Regions from separate parts of the Homo sapiens genome. Here region 2 is linked to region 1. A link means that fine-mapping ties the variant in region 1 to the plasma level of a protein whose gene starts in the linked region. Region 1 holds a variant in brackets. A gene starts in the other region. All regions are shown on their reverse strands.

Region 1 (5,534 bases):
AAGGTAAAAATGGCTGAGTGAGCATTAGTCTATAAATCTAAAGACAGAGATTAAACCTCTTTTCACCAAGTCCTGAGGTGAAATTTCACACTGAATTTGCAAAGTTAAAGGAGCAGCTTCAATTCTGCAGCGGTAGGGGGGCACTTCTGCATTTTTTTTTCCAGGGAGGGAAAAGTAGAGTAAAGCCAGTTGGTTAAGATATTTAGCCGCTAACTAATGTATTGGATGAATATTATTATATTATTAAAATTAATAAATTATCAATTATTAAAATCCTTCTTTGAGTCTAAAAAACATAGGCCATCAATATTACTGAAGTTATGAATACAAAAACTATGAAGACCTAAACTGCAACCCTTATATAATTTCCACAGCTGACCAAAAGCCAGAGAAGCATAACTAATCAAGGTCAATGACCATAGAAAAGTCAATTTGTGTGTTAATCTCATTTGAAGATATATTATACTCATGAGCCATACCTTCATTAAGCTTAAAAACTGACACAATTTTCATACGTTTAAATCAAGAAACTTCAATATATATACCCAGCCAGGTTTATACTATGGGCAATGCTCAGAAATTTGTGAATCAAATTTCAAGTACAATGTACTTGAATTAGTACCATCAAAACGTTTTGAAAATTGATCAATATCTATATTATAATATCCTTGTGAAGCTAAATAACAACCTTTTAAGTTAAAGACTGAGAGTAAAAAAAAGTTGTCTCTGGCTTATTTATTATGTAAATCTTTATAATGATTGTAAGTTTCAAAGGCCCAGACTGTTTCAACTACAGATGCAGGTGAAGCTAACGTAGAGAAATGAGAACACTTACTATATATGGCTTGTTTTATTTTCTTGGGAGATAGAGAAAAGTTATAGGGAATTATTCCTTATATAACTCTAACTATATTTCCTATGTAACTTTAATGCTAGGATTAAGTATCAAACTTAATAGGCCCCTCTCTGCAATAGGTTCGTTTCAGGAATCACTGGCCCTAGGAATCAACAAAGCTCAGAGTTGGAGGAAAAACCAAGCTTTCAGTATTTGAGGCAGCTCCTTGTGGAAGGCAGTCATTAAAAACTAAAAAAGAAAAAAAAATTTAGAAGATATATTCTTTTAGTAGTCAAGACAAAATGCTACTAGGAAAGTAAAAAGAAAATTAGAGGAGGACATTTTCATCTGCCATTACTCCTTGTATACTTATTTACCCTGGGGAAGTCATGGAGAAAAAAGTTTCTAGATTTAGATATCTGTTGTATCTGTTGGCTAAAAAACATATGGATGCTATAAAAATATAGCACCTGTTCTTCCTCAGCATCTACTCATATTTACCATGTGATAGTCTGAGTTTTGAAATCACGGTTTAAATTATATATCTGTGTCAATTTGGATTTTTTTGAGGCAAGGTAGTATATATACCTGAACAATTTTATATTGTGTGGCAGAAATTCCTACATGTAAAATAGATCACTGTGGCCAACAGAAAACAGAGTTCTATTTAAATACTTGGAATAACTTAATTTTATATATCCTTTTATCTACAGATCCTGGCCTTCACAGTTCAAGGTTATACATAAATGGGTCTGGTTAAGATAGGCATGTCTGCACAAAGTCTTTTTGGTAAGAGAATGATACAAGCATACACAAAAGAGTTAATTCATATATTTTATCAACCGAATTCTTCTTCTTTTTTTTTTTTTTTGAGATGGAGTCTTGCTCTTGTCACCTAGGCTGGAGTGCAGTGTCACGATCTCGGCTCACTGCAACTTTTGCCTCCTGGATTCAAGCGATTCTCCTGCCTTAGCCTCTCGAATAGCTGGGGTTACAGGTGCCCACCACCACACCCGGCTAATTTTTGTATTTTTAGTAGAGACGGGGTTTCACCATGTTGGCCAGGCTGGTCTCGAACTCCTGGCCTCGTGATCCACCTGCCTTGGCCTGTCAAAGTGCTGGGATTACAGGCGTGAGCCACCGCACCCGGCCTCAACCGAGTTCTAACAAAAATATTGATTATTACAGAATGAAACCTTAACGCCTAATTTCAATTTTTGTGTTGTCCCACAGTGACACCTATTGATGGATACTGCATGAGTCTCCTTTTTCTTCCCTTTATTGCCTTGCTTAATAAATACTGCAATAAGCATCCTTGTGGATATATGCTTACATATTAGCATATCTCTTAAAGTGTACTTGGAAATAGAACTTTTGGGCAAAAGGTATGCATAATTAAATTTTGATAAGAGCTGCCAATTTATACTTCAATCTACACTCAAACTAATAATTTATAAAATTATTGGAAATATGGAATCATTTTGATTATTGTACTTTATAGTGTTTTCTCTATTTTGACTTCATAAATCTAATATACCAAATCCCTTAAATTACAGTTTTATCATATCTTTCTGAATTTTGGTACAGAACAAATTGTACCAAATGTGGAGTAGGCAACCTGTGTTCAATTTCCTAATACACTATTTATTTCCTTTGGGTTATCAGTAATTCATTTAGATCAGTGATTTTTGTACTTTTTTGACTGAGACAGCCCAAAGTAAGAAATAGCATGGCCCAGTGCATACACACAAATGCACACATACATGTGTATGGCACACACATACACTTTCATAAAGTACAAATAAAAGTTTTATAAAACTGTAGTTACCAGGATTATATGTGACGTACTCTATTTTCTTTTGTAATGCTTTGTAGTTATTTTTTATTAATGGTCACCAACAGCTAAAAGGCTTTCACTAGCTGCTAATGACTCAATACGTCATCACTCCACAGTTTGAACCATGCTGAAAACTTCTTTGAGTCTTGATCAATAAATTAATAAATAAAATAAGGTTAATAGTAATTATATAATTATGTAATATATTATATAAAAATCATGTCAAAATTTATGTTCCTGCTTTAAAATTCCATGATTCCAAGAATAGCTCTCATTCTGTTTCTTAAAATGTCTTTCATGAATTTCTAAACAGAAAAGAAAATGACATGAGCCTGAGAACAACTTTCTCTGATCCAAAACTTTCCCAAATAATTTACTACATCTTGCAAAGAGACATAAAGATGGTGATGAGACTTGAAGAAGAATGTCACTCAAAGATACAAGGAAATCCTCAGCTTTTTAATTCATTAACAACAATTTGGAATCAGAATCTATCCTGTTTTTAGTATGATTCCATAACAAATTGCATTGAAGCTAATGTATCTTCTCAGAAAAGAAAATTGTTTTCAGGAAATAAATGGCCTTACAAGCCAAGCAACTGTGGAATCTGGGGCTCATGGGAAGTAAGTGAACTGTTAGGAATGGCATGACTTGAGAAGTAACAGTGGTCTTCTTTCCA[C/T]GTCATTTAAAACTTTTTTCACGTAGCTGCCAGAGTTCGTGGAATTTCAGTTTGAAGTGTGCCTATTAAGGTTTTGAATAATTCTATTAAATGGGACACCTATTACCCATGAAAGGAGGTACAGTAAGCCTTCTGCAGTCATGGTCATATTATACTAAAACAATTGGTCTGTTAGACACCATACAAGGCCTTGAGTAATAAGTCTTGATGGACACAAAGGGATTTTTGCTCTCAAGGTGATTACAGTATAGGAGCTAAATTTAAATTTTGAGCCAGATGATCTCTATTATGCTGTTGTAGACCATGGCCAGAATTGCCATGCTCAGTTGCCTTCAGAGCTTGTAATATCAGAGATATTACAGCCTGTGCAGACTAACAGTCTGGTTATCACTCCATAGTTGGAATGTAAGAGTGCACATTTGATGCTTGATCACTTTTGCCTGGAGATAATATGACAATTGGCCCTAATGGCATGATAAGATAAGGTATCCAGTCTGGGGACAGTGGCTTATGCCTGTAATCCCAGCACTTTGGGAGGCCGAGGCAGACAGACCAGCCTGAACAACATGTTGAAACCCTGACTCTACTAAAAATACAAAAATTAGCCGGGCATGGTGGCATGCATCTGTAATCCCAGCTACTCAGGAGGCTGAGGCACGAGAATCACTTGAACCCAGGAAGTGGAGGTTGCAGTGAGCTGAGGTGGGCAACAGAGGAAGACTCTGTCTCAAAAAAAAGAAGAAGATACTGTATCCAAAACCCAGATGACAGATTAGAACTCTGGGGCTAGTTACATGTACAGTCAATTCTCATTATTCATGGATACTGCATTTGCAAATATGCGTGCTTGTTAAGATTGTAACTCCAAAATTAATACTCAAGGTCATTCATGAAAATGTGCAGAGCAGCAAAAAATTTGTGTCTGTCAGTGGGCACATTCCCAGCTGAGAGTGAACAAGGGGAAACTGGCTTCTTACTTATGTCTGTGTCTTTGTGTCTTTTTCGTGGTTTATTAGGGGTGATACTTTTTTTCATTTTTGTGCCTGTATTAGTCAGGGTTCTCTAGAGGGACAGAACTAATAGGATACATATATATATCTCATATATATATGAGTTTATGAGTATTATATATGAGTTTATATAATACACTCATATGAGTTTAACAAACTAATGTAATAATATATAACACAAAACGAATGAATTCATATTATCATATGAGTTTATATGTATATTAGTTTATTATATAAATATATATGAGTTTATTAAGTATTAACTTAAATGATCACAGGTCCCACAATAGGCTGTCTGCAAGCTGAGGAGCAAGGAGAGCCAGCCCAAGTCCCAAAGCTGAAAAACTTAGAGTCTGATGTTCGAGGGCAAGAAGCATCCAACACAGGAGAAAGATGTGGGCTGAGAGAGTGCCTTTATTGGTGACTTTGCTGTTTAAAATGATCCCCAAGCCCAGTACTAGAGTCCTATATAGTGTTCCTAAGTGCGAGAAGTCTGTGACATGCTTTAAAGAGAAAATATGTATTAGATAAGCTTTGTTTGGGCATGAGCAATAGTGCAGTTGGCCATGAGTTCAATGTTAATGAATCAACAACATATAGTAAATAAGATGTCTTTATTTTTATTTTAGTACGTATGTTTTTCAGCTTTATTGAGGTGTAATTGACAAAATGTTATACAGTCAAGGTGTACACTGTTGACGTTTTGAAGTACATTGTGAAACGACTGTTTCTATCAAGCTGATTAACATATCCATCATCTCACACAGTTACCTTTTTTATGATAAGAATACTTAAGGCCTCTCTTAGCAAATTTCAAGTATAGAACAAGTTGTTAACTGTAATCCCTGTGTAGCACATTAGCTCTCCAGAATGTATTCATCTTATAACTGCAAGTTTGCACACTTTGACCAATATCTCTCCATTTCCCCAAACCCCTAACTCCTAGGAAGCACGTTTCTACTTTCTATTTCTCTGAGTTCAACTTTTCTTCCCTTCCTTCTTCCCTCTTTTCTTTTTCTTTCTTTCTTTCTTTCTTTCTTTCTTTCTTTCTTTCTTTTTCTTTCTTTCTCTCTCTTCTTTTTCTTTCTTTTCTCCTTTCTTTCTTTCTCTCTCTCTTTTTCTTTCTTTTCTCCTTTCTTTCTTTCTCTCTTTCTTTCCCCTTCCCCTTCCCCT
Region 2 (2,191 bases), not on the chromosome of region 1:
ATCAGGAGTTCAAGACCAGCCTGGCTAACATGGCGAAACCGTCTCTGCTAAAAATACAAAAATTAGCTGAGGCCGGGCGCGGTGGCTCACGCCTGTAATCCCAGCACTTTGGGAGGCCAAGGCGGGCGGATCACGAGATCAGGAGATCGAGACAATCCTGGCTGACACCGTGAAACCCCATCTCTACTAAAAATACAAAAAATTAGCTGTAGTCCCAGCTACTCGGGAGGCTGAGGCAGGAGAATGGCGTGAACCCGGGAGGCGGAGCTTGCAGTGAGCCTAGATCGCGCCACTGCACTCCAGCCTGGGCGACAGAGTGAGACTCCATCTCAAAAAAAAAAAAAAAAAATTAGCTGGGCGTGATGGCACAGGCCTGTAATCCCAGCTACTTGGGAGGCTGAGGCACAAGAATCACTTAAACCCGGGAGGCAGAGGTTGCAGTGAGCTGAGATTGCACCACTGCACTCCAGCCCGGGCCACAGAGCGAGACTCCATCTCAAAACAAAACAAAACAAAAAAAAGGACCTCACAGGGAGTCTCTCTACCTCTCAAAGGGCTGAGGTGTCCTCTCTGAGCTCAGGGACAGGAGGCAGTGCAGAGAGAGACTCCTGCTTCTCCTAGCTTCCAGCTCTGGTTCCACGTTGGAAGAAGGGGGCTTGGGAAGAAGTCTGGGAAAGGGAACCCGAGAGAAAGGAGAGGATATGGCACAGAACTGGGGGGCAAAGGCCAAAGGGTTGGGGTCTTCGGAGGCGAGCCTATCCAATGGGCCTTGTGTTACCCTTGGCCGTGTGCAGGTCCACCTCCACCGTGGGGTTGCCCCTGGAGTCCAAGATTTCCCGGGCAAAGATTTTCTGCATGGCCATGGCTGCAGGACAGGAGGTGTGAGTGAGTGTAGACAGTTGATCTCTTAAGGAACCAGAAATCCCTTGCCCTTTAAGATTCTTCCCCACTCCAAGAAGGCAGGTGCTGGAGCTAAAAATACCCTACAAAAAGGTCACAGACCAAAGAGGCAGGCGCAGCCCCCTCCCCCACTCAGAACAGCTCTTATTCCACCCTCCCATCCTAAGAATCCAGGGGCCTCTTATCTATAGCTCCTGGGATGCCACCGCTCACCAAGCCCCCACCTCCCCCAAGCCTCCACTTAGGCCTTCTCCTTCCACCCCTCTGGTCAAGCAGTCTGTTCTCCATGGCTGGTGGCCTTCAAATCCTTTCTGGTTCTCATTTTCCTGCTCCGAAATCTCCTTGGGCCCCCAATTCCCTATCAGGTTCCAGCTCTAGCTGCCCTTTTCTATCCATCCCTGCTGCCCTCCTCACAGCCTCCTTTCCCTAGATCCTTCGGTGTTCCCAGAGTTTGTCCCATCTGCTTGCTCCAGCCGCCCCTTCCCCCAGCTTTTTCAAGCATCTCCAGTCCCAGGAGGAAAAAAAGCAGAAATGTCCCCCACTTCCTCCAAGCCAATACCATGCTCACCCTTTACTACCTCCACCCCCAGGGCTGGAAGATTCACCCGACCTGGGATGTCTTCGCTGGAGGTTTGGATGGAGCTCCGAGTCTAGGTGGCAGCTGGGACAGTGTCAGCTCACCCCCTCTCAGGCTGCGCATTTATCCCTGAGCCACTCGGTCCCCAGCCAGCCCCGCCTCTCTTTCTCTCCATCCTCCCCCCTTCACACTGGGCTGGCAGCCAAGTGCCCACTACAGCCTGAAGCAGAAGCCTCTGGCCCTGGGCACCTGCCCCCTTACCAAAGGTCAACTACTATCCCCCACTTTCTGTCTCCCAATAACAGTCCCTGTTCTAATTCCACCCTTTGGGAGGAGCAAGGGAGGGGCTACAGATGAGGGGTCTCCCCCCACCCCAGGATTACATTCCCCTTTTGCAAACGTCAAGAGGAATGAGTGACCTTTAGGAAAGGCCAGGGGTAACCTGAGCCCTGCAAGGCTGGGGAGGGGGCCTGGAAGAGGGGCTGCAAGATTGACGTCCACACATGCTCAGATCGCTGGGCGGGCCTCTGTCCTCAGTGGGGGAAAGGACGGGACCCCCCACCCCAGAAGGCGAGAGGGTCTCACCTCTTAGGGTCCTCATAACGGCCATTCTCGGCGCCGCCCCATCCTACCCTCTCCAGGCCAGCCAGCGCCGGGATGAGTTAGGGGACAGGAAACGAATTTAGACAGGCCCTTTCGGCTGGCAAGGCGCCC

Alleles and levels. Positions count from the first base shown, and alleles are read on the strand shown. Strength reflects both the effect of a copy and how common the allele is.
With allele T in place of C in region 1, the plasma level of the protein whose gene starts at base 1,574 in region 2 is higher (weak association).

What was found. A credible set is the group of variants that fine-mapping cannot tell apart. PIP is the chance, under the fine-mapping model, that this variant and not a neighbour inherited with it causes the effect. Protein levels are from antibody-based Olink assays in UK Biobank. Linkage for the fine-mapping came from a reference panel and not from the study's own genotypes, which makes the PIPs less certain.
Region 2: it holds the start of ENO3, and the variant in region 1 is the best candidate, but not a certain one, in a credible set for the plasma level of the ENO3 protein (UK Biobank, PIP 0.68).

The regions. Positions count from the first base shown.
Region 1 is chr12:7,614,998-7,620,531 of GRCh38, reverse strand. No RefSeq gene overlaps it. Among named protein-coding and RNA genes, the nearest start is that of APOBEC1, 48 kb to the left of the region's middle. The variant C/T (reference allele first, on the strand shown) is at 3,352.
Region 2 is chr17:4,950,502-4,952,692 of GRCh38, reverse strand. ENO3 (enolase 3) reads right to left here and starts at 1,574. Exons shown (of 12, transcript NM_053013.4): 1 at 1,511-1,574; 2 at 779-865. The coding sequence starts at 863. RefSeq lists an enhancer at 308-1,042.